Linked DNA regions of Homo sapiens. The protein of the gene in region 4 purifies or fractionates together with the protein of the main gene of each other region. This does not show direct contact. Each region holds a gene or a part of one and is shown on either strand. Other genes may lie near its edges.

What was found. The genes of interacting proteins can lie anywhere in the genome.
Region 1: the proteins of TRAF3IP1 (region 4) and MAP4 purify together in Homo sapiens (affinity purification with mass spectrometry; one study listed by BioGRID and IntAct). This does not show direct contact.
Region 2: the proteins of TRAF3IP1 (region 4) and TRAP1 purify together in Homo sapiens (affinity purification with mass spectrometry; one study listed by BioGRID and IntAct). This does not show direct contact.
Region 3: the proteins of TRAF3IP1 (region 4) and IFT172 purify together in Homo sapiens (affinity purification with mass spectrometry; one large-scale study listed by BioGRID and IntAct). This does not show direct contact.

The regions. Positions count from the first base shown.
Region 1 is NC_000003.12:48,006,417-48,009,916, forward strand, and holds part of MAP4 (microtubule-associated protein 4), read right to left. Parts: intron 1-3,500. UniProt on the Homo sapiens protein: Non-neuronal microtubule-associated protein. Promotes microtubule assembly.
Region 2 is NC_000016.10:3,707,525-3,711,024, reverse strand, and holds part of TRAP1 (heat shock protein 75 kDa, mitochondrial isoform 1 precursor), read left to right. Parts: intron 1-622; exon of another isoform or gene 623-640; intron 641-3,500.
Region 3 is NC_000002.12:27,444,744-27,448,243, forward strand, and holds part of IFT172 (intraflagellar transport protein 172 homolog), read right to left. Parts: intron 3,180-3,500; coding exon 3,069-3,179; intron 2,892-3,068; coding exon 2,772-2,891; intron 1,739-2,771; exon of another isoform or gene 1,613-1,738; coding exon 1,517-1,612; intron 1,246-1,516; coding exon 1,186-1,245; intron 1,101-1,185; coding exon 1,002-1,100; intron 707-1,001; coding exon 553-706; intron 363-552; coding exon 271-362; intron 1-270. UniProt on the Homo sapiens protein: Required for the maintenance and formation of cilia. Plays an indirect role in hedgehog (Hh) signaling, cilia being required for all activity of the hedgehog pathway.
Region 4 is NC_000002.12:238,327,018-238,330,517, reverse strand, and holds part of TRAF3IP1 (TRAF3-interacting protein 1), read right to left. Parts: intron 1,833-3,500; coding exon 1,689-1,832; intron 1,593-1,688; coding exon 1,176-1,592; intron 1-1,175.

The DNA.
Region 1 (3,500 bases), on a different chromosome or scaffold from region 4:
AAGTCAGGTAATTAATGAAGTTTTAGCTTAGGTCTGACTTACAGTGGGCCCAGTGGGTCCCTGGACTCATCCTGTGGTCATTACCCCAGTGCCAGAATGCATAATTGGCATAGACATACTTAGCAGCTGGCAAAACCCCCACACTGGCTCCCTGACTGCTAGGTTGAGGGCTATCATGGTGGGAAAGGCCAAATAGAAGCCCTTAGAGTTGCCTCTACCTAAAAAAATAGTAAATCAAAAACAATATCACATCCCTGGAAGGTATGCAGAGATCAGTGCCACCATCAAGGACTTGAAAGATGCAGAAGTGGTGATTCCCACCACATCCCCATTAACTCTCTCATTTGGCCTGTGCAGAAGACAGATGGATCCTGGAGAATGATAGTGGATTATCATAAGCTTAACCAAGTGGTGACTCCAATTGCTGCTGCTGTTACCAGATGTGGTTTCATTGCTTGAGCAAATTAACACATCTCCTGGTACCTGCTATGCAGCCACTGACTCTGCAAATGCCTTTTTCTCTATTCCTGTCCATAAGGCCCATCAGAAGCAATCTGCCTTCAGCTGGCAAGGCCAGCAATATACCTTTACTGTCCTACCTCAGGGGTATATCAACTCTCCGGCTTTGTGTCATAATCTTATTTGGAGAGATCTTGATCGCTTTTCGCTTCCGCAAGATATCACACTGGTCCATTACATTGATGACATTATGCTGACTGGATCCAGTGATCAAGAAATAGCAAACACACTGGACTTATTGGTGTGACATTTGCATGCCAGAGGATGAGAAATAAATCCGACTAAAATTCAGGGACCTTCTGTCTCAGTAAAATTTCTAGGGATCTAGTGTTGTGGGACCTGTTGAGATATTCCCTTTAAGTTAAAGGATAAGTTGTTGTGTTTGGTCTCTCCCACAACCAAGAAAGAGGCACAATGCCTAGTGGGCATATTTGGATTTTGGAAGCAACACGTTCCTCATTTGGGTGTATTACTCCGGCCCATTTACTGAGTGACCTGAAAGGCTGCCAGTTTTGAGTGGGGTCCAGAACAGGAGAAGGCTCTGCAACAGGTCCAGGCTGCTGTGCAAGCTGCTCTGCCACCTGGGCCATATGACCCAGCAGATCCAATGGTGCTTAATGTGTCAGTGGCAGATGGGGATGTTGTTTGGAGTCTTTGGCAGGCTCCCATAGGTGAATCGCAATGGAGACTTCTAGGATTTTGGAGCAAGGCCCTGCCATCTTCTACAGATAACTACTCTCCTTTTTTTTTTTTTTTGAGACGCAGTGTCACTCTGTTGCCAAACTGGAGTGCAGTGGTGCGATCTCGGCTCAATGCAACCTCCACCTCCCAGGTTCAAGCGATTCTCCTGCCTCAGCCTCCCAAGTAGCTGGGAATACAGGTGCGTGCCACCACATCCAGCTAATTTTTGTATTTTTAGTAAAGATGGGGTTTCACCATGTTGGCCAGGATGGTCTCGATCTCTTGACCTTGTGATCCGCCCACCTCAGCCTCCCAAAGTGCTGATTACAGCTAACTACTCTCCTTTTGAGAGTCAGCTCTTGGCCTGTTACTGGGCTTTAGTGGAAATTGAATGTTTGACTATGGGTCATCAAGTCACCATGCGACCTGAACTGCCCTGCCTATCATGAGCTGGGTGCTTTCAGACCCATCTAGCCATACAGTGGATTGTGCACAGCAGCATTCCATCATCAAATGGAAGTGGTATATACGTGATCGGGCTCAAGCACGTCCTGAAGGCACAAGTAAATTACATGAGGAAGTGGCTCAAATGCCCATGGCCTCCACTCCTGCCACCCTGCCTTCTCTCTCCCAGCCTGCACTGATGGCCTCATGGGGAGTTCCCTATGATCAGCTGACAGAGGAAAAGAAGATTAGGGCCTGCTTCACAGACGGTTCTGCATCATATGCAGACAACACCCGAAAGTGGAGAGCTGCAGCACTACAACCCCTTTCTAGGACATCCCTGAAGGACAACAATGAAGGGAAATCTTCCCAGTGGGCAGAACTTCGAGCAGTGCACCTGGTTGTGCACTTTGAATGGAAGGAGAAATGGCCAGATGTGTGATTATATACTCATTCATGGGCTGTAGCCAATGGTTTGGCTGGTCAGGGACTTGGAAGGAGCATGATTGGAAACTTGGTGACAAATTTGGGGAAGAGGTATGTGGATGGACCTCTCTGAGTGGTCAAAGACAAGATATTTGTATCCCATGTGAGTGCTCACCAACAAGTGACCTCAGCGGAGGAGGGGTTTAATAATCTAGTGGATAGGATGACCCATTTTGTGGACACCACTCAGCCTCTTTCCCCTGCCATCGCCCATGGCCAACAAAGTGGCCATGGTGGCAGGGATGGAAGTAATGCTTGGGCTCAGCAACATGGACTTCCACTCACCAAGGCTGACCTGGCTACGGCCACTGCTGAGTGCCTAATTTGCCAGCAGCAGAGACCGACACCAAGCCCTCAGTATGTCACCATTCCTTGGGTGATCAGCCAGCTACCTGGTGGCGGATTGATTATATTGGACCTCTTCCATCATGGAAAGGGCAGAGGATTGTCCTCACTCAAATAGACACTTACTCTGGATATGGGTTCGCCTATCCTGTATGCAATGCTTCTACCAAGACTACCATTTGTGGAATGTTTTTTTGGTTTGTTGTTGTTGTTGTTGTTGTTGTTTTGAGAAGGGGTCTCACTCTGTTGCCCAGGCTGGAGTGCAGTGGCACAATCTTGGCTCATTGCAACATCCGCCTCCCGGGTTCAAGTGATTCTCCTGCCTCCGCCTCCCAAGTAGCTAGGATTACAGGCACCCGCCACCACACCCAGCTAATTTTTGTATTTTCAGTAGAGACAGGGTTTCACCATGTTGGCCAGGCTGGTCTTGAACTCCTGACTTCAAGTGATCTGCCTGCCTCGGCCTCCCAAAGTGCTGGGATTACAGGCGTGAGCCACCGCACCCAGCTGACTCATGGAATGCCTTATCCACCATCATGGTATGCCACGCAGCATTGCCTCTGACCAAGGCACTCACTTTACAGCTAAAGAAGTGCGGCAGTAGGCTCATGCTCATGGAATTCACTGGTCTTACCATGCTCTCCATCATCCTAAAGCAGCTGGATTGACAGAACAGTGGAATGGCCTATTGAAGTCACAATTACAACGCCAACTAGGTGACAATACTTTGCAGAACTGTGGGAAAGTCCTCCAGAAGGCCGTGTATCCTCTGAATCAGCGTCCAATATAAGGTACTGTTTCTCCCATAGCCAGGATTCACAGGTCCAGGAATCGAGGGGTGGAACTGGAAGTGGCACCACTCACCATCACCCCTAGTGATCCACTAGCAAAATTTTTGCTTCCTCTCCTGCAACATTATGTTCTGCTGGCCTAGAGGTCTTAATTCCAGAGGGAAGAATGCTGCCACCAGGAGACACAACAATGATTCCATTAAACTGGAAGTTAAGATTGTCACCTGGACACTT
Region 2 (3,500 bases), on a different chromosome or scaffold from region 4:
CTGGGTGTGCCTGTGGTCCCAGCTACCCAAGAGGCTGAAGTGGGAGGCTCCCTTAAGCCTTGAGAAGTCGAGGCTGCAGTGAGCTGTGATCACGCCACTGCACTACAGTCTGGGTGACAGAGTGACAGTGTCTCAAAAAAAAAAATATATATATATATATATATATACACACACACATATAAAAGAAATTAATTTTGAGATAGCTAAATTAAATGCCATATTAAGAGCAGGAGGCTATTCAGCAATGCTGCTGAGAAGAAGACAGAAGGACGTGGGTCCTTCTAATGTAACTATGTGTGTCGGGTTAGTGATATGCACCTCGAAGGAGAAATTAAGACAGCACATTGCCATGTTAGTTCACACTTGCCAGTATTTCAGCATTTGTCAGGCAATGGAATGTTCAAGCGAATTTTCCACGAGGCTGACTTTAAAACATTTCATTTTAACCATTATGATGAGAAGTCTTTCTAGAACACTCCATCATTTGATGGCCCATGACTGAACCTCTCTTGGATGTTTTCAGGGTCATTATTACGGGTGTTAATGTTTGGTCTTCTGTTTTAATATGTAGGCTCCCGTAGGGCCATTGAAATGTGAAGAATCCTTCGTCTATGAAGTGTCCCCACATCAAAACTGCATTGTGAGTGTTTATATTTTTGGCCTCTCTTACTGTGGCCTTAACTTGCAGGTCTGTCTGGAGCCCTGTTCTCTCCTTTCCTAGTTTGCAGATGTGGCTGGGAAACTTGTTAGCATCAAATTGTTAGAATGAGATGGATTTCATATGGGGCCAGTAGTCTTCCATGAGCAAAGCTCAGGGTGAGGGCTTCAGGCCCATATTTTGACTATTCCGAGGTGCCCTTTCGCTTTTTGTTCTTTTTCTTTATGTTCAAGGAGTTATGTTTCCTGATGAATGAAGTATCAGTATATCATAGTAGAGAACGATTAGACCAGGTTCTGGAACACAGGAAACCTCAAGAAACAGTGAGTGTTGAGAATGCCAGAGCTAAGAACTCAGACATTTGTGAGGGAATACAGGTCTTTCTGTTCAGAATGTTCATGTACTTAAGAATCTTCTCGCCAGGCGCGGTGGCTCACGCCTGTAATCCCAGCACTTTGGCAGGCTGAGGCGGGTGGATCACCTGAGGTTAGGAGTTTGAGACCAGCCTGACCAACATGGAGAAACCCTGTCTCTACGAAAAATACAAAACTAGCCGGGCGTGGTGGCGCATGCCTGTAATCCCAGCTACTTAGGAGGCTGAGGCAGGAGAATCGCTTGAATCTGGGAGGTGGAGGTTGTGGTGTGCCGAGATGGCGCCACTGCACTCCAGCCTGGCAACAAGAGCGAAAACTCCGTCTCACACACACACACAAAAAAAAGGGAAACAAAGGTAAACTGGGAAGGAACCGTGTGTAATCTTCCGTACCTTGCATTTTCCACTTATATTCTGGGGTTTGTTTCCTGTCGCCACAGAGCTCTGGTATTCCATAGCGAGGATGTTTTGTAATTTATGTAACCCTCTCATGGCGGACATTTAGGTTGTTGCTGAGTTTCCCCAAGATAACAGACGGCATTGCCAACAGTTTCTCACACCTTCACCAGTGCTAGAATGACAGTATTTAAAACATCTGTCAATCTGGTAGTGAAAATGCTATCTCGTTTTAAAGTGCATTTCCTTAGTTATGAGTGTGGTAAAACATCTTTTACTAGGACGTAAAGCCATTGATGTTTCTTGTTTTTGTGAATGGCCATTTTTCTCTTGAACCAATGGCCTTTTTCTTTTTTTTTTTTTTTTTTTTGAGATGGAGTTTTGCACTTGGTGCCCAGGCTGGAGTGCAGTGGCGTGATCTTGGCTCACCGTAACCTCTGCGCTAGCCCTTTTAAATAACTTTTAAAAATTGAGACAGTGTCGGGCCAGGCACGGTGGCTCACGCCTGTAATCCCAGCACTGTGGGAGGCCGAGGCGGGCGGATCATGAGGTCAGGAGATCGAGACCATCCTGGCTAACACGGTGAAACCCCATCTCTACTAAAAATACAAAAAATTATCTGGGCATGGTGGCGGGCGCCTGTAGTCCCAGCTACTTGGGAAGCTGAGGCAGGAGAATGCCGTGAACCCAGGAAGCGGAGCTTGCAGTGAGCCGCGATCGCACCACTGCACTCCAGCCTCGGCAACAGAGCAAAACTCCATCTCAAAAAAAAAAAAAAAATTGAGACAGAGTCTGACTCTGTTGCCCAGGCTGGAGTGCAGTGGCGCCATCTCACCTTACTGTAACCTCCGCCTCCCGAGGTTAAGCAGTCCTCTCGCCTCAGCCTCACAAGTAGCCGGGATTACAGGCACGCGCCACCATGCCCGGCTCATTTATTTTTATTTATTTATTTATTTATTTTGAGATGGAGTCTCGCTCCGTCGCCCAGGCTGGAGTGCAGTGGTACAATCTTGGCTCACTGCAACCTCCGTCTCCCAGGTTGAAGCATTTCTCCTGCCTCAGCCTCCCTAGTAGCTGGGACTACAGGCACCCGTCACCACGCCCGGCTAATTTTTGTATTTTTAGTAGAGATGGAATTTCACCATGTTGATCAGGCTGGTCTTGAACTCCTGACCTCATGATCCATCCGCCTCAGCCTCCCAAAGTGTTGGCATTACAGGTGTGAGCCACTGCTCCTGGCTTTCTGGCTAATTTTTGTTTTTTTTTGTATTTTTAGTAGAGACAGGGTTTTGCCATGTTGGCCAGGCTAGTCTCAAACTCTTGACCTCGGGATCTGCCCGCCCCCACCTCCCAAAGTGCTGTGATTACAGGCGTGAGCCACGGCACTAAATTTTATTTTAGAGGCAGGGTCTTGCTTTGTCATCCGGGCTGGAGTGCAGTTGTGCGATCCTGGCTCGCTGCAGGCCTGACCTCCTGGACTCAAGTGATACTCCTGCCTCATCCTCCCAAGTGGCTGTGACCTCTTCCTCCCAAGGAGCATGTGCCACCATGCCTGGCTAATTAAAAAACATTTTTTTTAGAGATGGGGTCCCACTATATTGCCCCGGCTTGTCTTGAACTCCTGGTCTCAAGTGATCCTCCTACTTCTGCCTGCCAAAGTACTGGGATTACACGCAGGAGCCGTCGTGCCTGGCCCCCAGTTTTTTTCTTAATGTGTTTGTCTTTTTTTTTTTTTTTTTTGAGTTAGAGTCTCGCTCTGTCTGTTGCCCAGGCTGGAGTGCAGTGGCACGATCTTGGCTCACTGCAGCCTTCGCTTCCCGAGTGCAAGCAAGTCTCCTGCCTCAGCCTCTGGAGTAGCTGGGATTACAGATGCCCGCTGCGACTCCCAGCTAATTTTTGTATTTTTGGTAGAGACGGGGTTTCACCATGTTGGCCAGGCTGGTCTCGAACTCCTGACCTCAGGCGATCCACCCACCTCAGCCTCCCAAAGTGCTGGGATTACAGGCATGAGCCACCTCACCCGGGTGTTTGTCTTTTGACTTAAATTTTTATGTGGTCCTTATATTTATGGCC
Region 3 (3,500 bases), about 210 Mb from region 4:
TTTAAGCGATTCTCCTGCCTCAGCCTCCTGAGTAGCTGGGATTACAGGTGCACGCCACCAGACCCGGCTAACTTTTGTATTTTTAGTAGAGACGAGGTTTTAACCATGTTGGCCAGGCTGGTCTCAAACTCCTGACCTCAGGTGATCCGCCCACCTTGGCCTCCCAAAGTGCTGGGATTAAAGGTATGAGCCACTGCACCCAGACTTGTTTTTTTTTCTTTTTTTAGTGCTGCCCTCTCTGCCTTCATTCTCCAAGTCCTCCTCTCTAACCTTGATGGCCATAAGGAATTTATTCCAGTTGTCCTTGTTAGCAGCCTTCCCTGGCCGCTTAAATTCAATTTTGTTCCTCAGAATGGGGTATCCTGTGGAGGAAGAAAAAATGATGAACTGGGGTTTGAGAGAGATTGAGGAGGGAAAAATGAGGAGCAGCCTGGGGGGTAGAAAGCACAGTCCTGTCTTTTGTACCCTTTACTGAATCCTAGTAAAATTAAGTTTATTGATCCTGCTGCTTTCTACCCACCACAGGATCTGGGGTGCTGTAGGCTTCTATACCTGTAATAAGGCAGGGCAGGGCTCGAACACCAGTGCTCGCTGCCACTAGGGAGGCCTCGTAGGCGCCACGCTCATCCCGAGGCAGAACCTGCTCCAGCCGCTGGTCCATGGAGACTGTAAGCACCCAGTCTCGAACCTCTTCTCTCTCAGCCTCCTGGAAAGGACAAGAAGGGAGTGGTAGCTTCACACAGGGCAGGGCAGGACAAGTTGGGGTGGATGGGTGAGGAGGGGGTTTGCTAAGCCCTCATCCTGTATACCAGCTTTTAGCCACGAATCCTCCTTGGATTGGGGGATGCAGTCACAGCCTTTTCTTTCTATTTTGCTTCTACTTTCACTGAAAAAACAGTGAGGGCTGAGGTCCTTCCAAAGATGGCAGCACAAAGATATTCTCCCTCCTCAAGGCACTCACACTGGTGAGGCCTTCCGGTTTTCCAACCCTGTGCCCTTACCGGTACATGCTGCTTAGCTGGGAGTGGCACCTCAAAGGGAATGTCTGTATCCTGAAAATCAGAGTGGTCAAGGCCATCTAGAGTCCCTTCCTCGATTGCCTGCAGTAGAGTGGGCAACCATGAACTAGGCACAGCTCGCGACTGGCAAAAACCTCCACCCTCGGGGCACAGCTTCCCTACTCACATCGGTCAGGTCCAAAAAGCGATTGAGGAAGATGAATGCCATGTTATCCCAGCCAACTGCCTGCAGCAAAGAAGAGTTGCAAATGGGAGTGAACAAGCTGGGTTTGAATGCTACTTCTCTGGGATCCAGATGCAAATGGGAGTGAGCAAGCTGGGCTTGAATGCTATTTCTCTGGGATCCAGGGAGAAAAATCCAGGAAGACATAGGAGGACTACATCCTCCGTAACATCAGCCCTACACTCAGCTTTCCTCTACCAGAGCAGAAGGGATATTCTATTTTCCAACCTTTAACTTCCTCCTATCTGCCCCACCCTTCCTTGTCCCAGCTCACCTTGGCAGCAATGCCTGCTTCATAGAAGGCTTTGTCTACAGGTAGTAGCTGGGTGTGACGCAAGAGTGAAACAGAAAGCCTGGCAGCCACGGTTTCCTGGGATTAAAGTCAAAGCATTATGAATATGGCACTAAAGTGACTGAGCTACCAGACCAATGATCCTGTAAGGCAGCCACAGAACTAAAAAACAACAATTATTATTAAACTGCTCTGGATTCTCAAGCTGTTCTGGGTCTTAGTTTTTTTTTTCTTTTTCTCTGAACAAGACACCTGGGCCTAGGTTCAATTCTTTCGCCCAGGCTGGAGTGCAGTGGTGCCATCTCAGCTCACTGCAACCTCTGCCTCCCGGATTCAAGTAATTCTCGTGCCTCAGCCTCCTGAGTAGCTAGGACTACAAGCGCACATTACCATGCCTGGCTAATTTTTTTTTTTTTTTTTTTTTTTTTTTTTTGAGACGGAGTCTCGCTCTGTCGCCCAGGCCAGACTGCGGACTGCAGTGGCGCAATCTCGGCTCACTGCAAGCTCCGCTTCCCGGGTTCACGCCATTCTCCTGCCTCAGCCTCCCGAGTAGCTGGGACTACAGGCGCCCGCCACCGTGCCTGGCTAATTTTTTGTATTTTTAGTAGAGACGGGGTTTCACCTTGTTAGCCAGGATGGTCTCGATCTCCTGACCTCATGATCCACCCGCCTCGGCCTCCCAAAGTGCTGGGATTACAGGCGTGAGCCACCGCGCCCGGCCAACCTGGCTAATTTTTATGTTTTTAGTAGAGATGGGGTTTCACCACGTTGGCCAGGCTGGTCTCGAACTCCTGGCCTCAAGTGATCCACCCGCCTCGGCCTCCCAAAGTGCTGGGATTACAGGGGTGAGCCACCACACCCACCCACCTAGATTGTTTCTAAGGTTCTTTCCACTTCTAGAATTCTATCATCCAAGTACATGAAATAAATATACAGTGAACAGTCAAAAATAAGCCCAGAATATGTGTACATTATAAGAGGTGAATAAAGAAATCATGGGATTTGGATGTTTAAACATAATGAGGCTGAGGCTGTGTGGGCACAGAGCCCTAAAAAGGTCGGAAGAAGAAAACCTCAGCAAGGGCTAAAGATTTGTTTAGACAGAAGAGAAGCTGAAAGACAGGTGGGGAGATTCAAGAGCCCAAGCTGAAGAATCCAGAACGTGAATCAATTCAGCTTTATACATTTGCAGATGAGCCCTTCTGACTGAGTGTTCCTTCGACCCCCTACATCTCACCAGCTGTTTGACACTCTGGGCTGCAGAGCGCGTGGCATAGTAATGAGCGATCAGCAGCATCGTCTTGAACTCCTCATGGGCTGGAGAGTTTGCCTCACTGGACTTCACCAGGTTTTCACACTAGAGGAGGGAGACAGCACAGCCTGGCTCAGGGGTCAGAGGAGTGCCAGGGCCATAGAGTGGTCTCTGATAGCCACCTGGCAGAGGAAGGTAAAATACATCTGAGAATAAAGGTTTATGTGCATCAAAGAAGAGATGAGGACAAGGACAGACGGAGCAGCCCTTTCGCTTCCTCACCAGGTTGAAGAGGACATCTCGAAGATCAGCCCAGCTATGATAGGCCTCGGCACAGTTGGTTCCAGGAGAGCTCACCATGTCAGTGAAGATCCTTTTGTAGATATTGAAGTTCTAGAGGTAGAGGGAAGAAGGGGATCTGAGAAGGGCATAGCTAGAAGAGAAAGTCACTGGAAGTGGGGCCAAAGGGAGGAGAAACAGGCTTTGTGTGTAGAAATGGGTATGTGTGTGTGTGCAAGGGCTGGGGGACAGTGGCAGATTTTTATTTTTATTTATTTTTATTTTTTTAATTTTATTTATTTATTTTTGAGACAGAGTCTTGCTCTGTTGCCCAAGGCTGGAGTGCAGTAGCATGATCTCGGCTCACTGCAAGCTCTGCCTCCCAGGTTCATGCCATTCTCCTGCCTCAGCCTCCCGAGTAGCTGGGACTATAGG
Region 4 (3,500 bases):
CTGGATCCCTTCCCGACCTCAGTGTCCTCCTTCCTAGCAGCTGGAGACAAGATGATTTCCAACATCTTCGCGGGATGCTTTACAATTTGACATCCCCCAAAGAATGCGTGTCTGGGTGTCTGGGAAAACGTCCCCAACACACATGGTGGGTCCAGAAAGAATTCACACATTGAGAAAACAGTTTGAAACCAACAGGACTTCCTGGCAAACCCTAAATTTACCTGAAAATTTAATTAAACAATAATTACAGTAAACTCAGGTCTTATTGTACTTATCTGCTGATGCCTAAAAGCCCTTGAAAGCAGCCCTAATCCTTAATAACTGAGCAATGTCCATGCTCCTAAAGACACCACATGCACAACTCAGACTGCGCATAAACACCGCTTGCAATGCTAAGGTGGAGGCTGCTCCAAAGCCTTCAGAGCAATACTGAGAGTGACACAAATGACACAAACGACACGCACGGGAGAAGCAACACATCTTAAAACACCTGCAAGACAAGGACAAGAGCAACTTGGCAAATCAGCTCAAACTCTGAAAAACGTTGATTTCTCTACATGCCTGGTGGGGAATCATTAAACCCTAAAAAGAGCAAGCATTTAATATTTTCCTGACATCCCCCTTCAAATTATCTTCTACCACTCCCAGATCAAAATTCCATAAAGGGAGACCTCAGAAACCACCATCAATTGATCAATTCCATCCAGTGTTTCATGATCTGAAAAGCCCATCACCCCTTGCCTGGATGCTCAATCCATTCCACCACCAAATATTTACTGCAAAGCTGCTATGTGTCAGACACTCTATCAGACTGGGCATCCAACAGTGAACATGAGTGAAATCTCTAGCTTTTGCTCTTAGGGAGCTTATAATCCAGCAGAATTCTCCCTGGACATGAAGTAGGAAATGGTTAAAAACTCACTGAATAATGCCTTAATAAATGATTGGCTGAACAATAAACTTCTATTAGGGGATGAACAAAAAAACCCAAAACACAACTGACAAGAAATAAGTATCTCTTTGGGTTTCTATTGAGAATCCAAGATTGTCATCATTTTAAATAGGCATAAAAGAAAACCAGTTTCCTAGTCATATTGTAAGAAAGGTAAAAATCATGTTTGAGACCACCACAAACTCTTGCTAAGCAAAAGGCGAGGTTCTCAGCAAGACTTTACCTTTTTCTCAGGTTTGTCATGCTCTCTGTTCTTCTCCCTGTCCAGGTCCCAGGAGTGCTCCCCGTTTTTCACTCTCCGTCTGTCCCTGTCCTTCCCTTTGTCCCGGTCGCGCTCTCGGTCCCTGTCTCTCAGTCTCTCCTTCTCTTTCCCCCCCTCACTCTTTCTCTCTGTCTCCTTCTTGCGCTCGGAGTCTCTGTCCCGCTCCCTGTTGCCTCTGTCTTTCTGTCGCTCGTTGTCTGGCCTGGCCCGGGCTTTGGCTCTCTCTCTCTCCCCTTCTCTGTGTCTGTTTCCGCCATTCTCCTTGGCCTTCTCCTTGTCCTTGTCCTTTTCTCTTGGCTTGCGGTCTTCTTTCAATTCTTCCTTCTGTTTTCGATCTCTGCTTGTACTTCTCTCTTTTATTTCAGCGTCTCCTCTATCCTACGAAATAAAAATAAAATCATTTATGAATATTTTTACCTAAACTACAAAAAGACTCACTATTTCATTTTCAAAGATGTGCGACTTGGAATTCACCTCTGTATTTTTGTGAACTCTGGACTCTTCTTCTCGCACATTCTTATTATCCAATTCCTGAGATCTTGAGGTCAGTGAGGCCCGGCCTTTCACTTCTCCCTTCTCTCCAGCTAAAACCCTCCGCACCGCATCGTCACTAGAGAGCTTGTCGTCCAAATGGAAGGAAATGAGGTGTTAGGTGAAATGAGATCCGCACACGTAACAAATAGAACATCGCCATTCAAAGATAGCTCATGAGACAGATTCTCTGTCTACAATGAAATTCAAAGGATAAAATATTTTTTGAACATGTTATTATCACATACAAAGCACAGCATATCTTGATAACTATTACTTTCAGCACTTTGGTCACTAACAGTAGCGTCCACCCAAGCTAAATGAATCCTGGTTCAAGTCTACCCAAGCTGTCAAATGTGAATGTGTGTGTTCAAGGTTAATAAAGCTGACCCATGCAACTCTACTACAAATACCTTAAACTTCTAATGGGATCATAGAATCCCAGCCATAAGTGCCTTAAGATTTTATCTAACCACCTCACACCCATTAGGATGGCTGCTCCTAAAAAAAAACACACAAAACCACAAGCATTGGCAAGGATAAGGAGAAATTGAAGCTCTCATGCACTGTTGGTGGAAATGTAAAATGATGCAGCCATTATGGAAAATAGTATAACAGCTCCTCAAAAAATTAGGCACAGATTTACCATATGACCCAATAATTCCCCTTCTGGGTATTTATCCAAAAAAATAGAAAACGGGGTCTTGAAGAGATATTTGTATACCCATGTTCATAGCAGTATTATTCATAATAGCTAAAATGTGGGAGCAAACTGTACCATTGACAGTTGAGTGGATAAACAAAATATGGTATATCCATTACAATGGAATATTATTCAGCCCTAAAAAGCGATGAAATTCTGATACATGCCACAACATGGATAAACCTTGAGAACATTATATTAAGTGAAATAAGCCAGTCAAAAAAATGACAAACACTCTATGACCCCACTTATCCGAGGTCCCTAGAGTAGTCAGATTCATAGAGACAGAAAGTAGAATGGAGGGTGCCAGGGGCTGGGGTACGGGAGAAGAGGAAGTTAGTGTTTCATGGGGACAGAGTCTGTTTTGCAAGGAGAAGAGTCCTGGAGATGGAAGGTGGTGATGGCTGCAGATGAATGAATTTACCAGCACTGAAGTGTACACTTCAACATGGTTAAGATGGCAAATTTTATGTTTTATGGACTTTAACACAATAATAAAATTATGGGTAAAAAACCACTGATCTGATTCAAGCCCCATCAAACGCAAAAATTCCTTCTCCAGCATCCCCGACAGCCATCCAGAGTGCAGGACACCTCAGTCAGGAGTCCCACTGACTCACGCACTCATTCCACAAGCACATGCTGCGTGATTGCCGCGTGCCAGGCTCCATTTAGGCCAAAGACACACCGTGTACTGGGGACACAGATAAACACAACAATTAAACAACAGCCTATAGGAAGCCTACAGGGGCACCTAAGTCAGCCTGGGAGGGAGGAGAGGCCCAGGCTCAAGGAAGCACTCACAGACGCCACATTGTTGCTGGGTGAGGCTGGAGGAGGAAGGCAGCTCAGGTACCAAGAAGCCAGCAGGCACCAGGGCAAGAGGCCGACGGGAGACAGCCGGCCAGGGCCGAATGCAGGGGTGCGTGGCGACTGGAATGGAGGGCTCAGATATGGGAAACGAGAGAAGGATCTGAAGGGAGAGAAGTAGCAGCAGGTCTCTAGGAGCCTCACAAGCTGTGCCATGGAGCTGGCCCAGACCCGAGGCTACT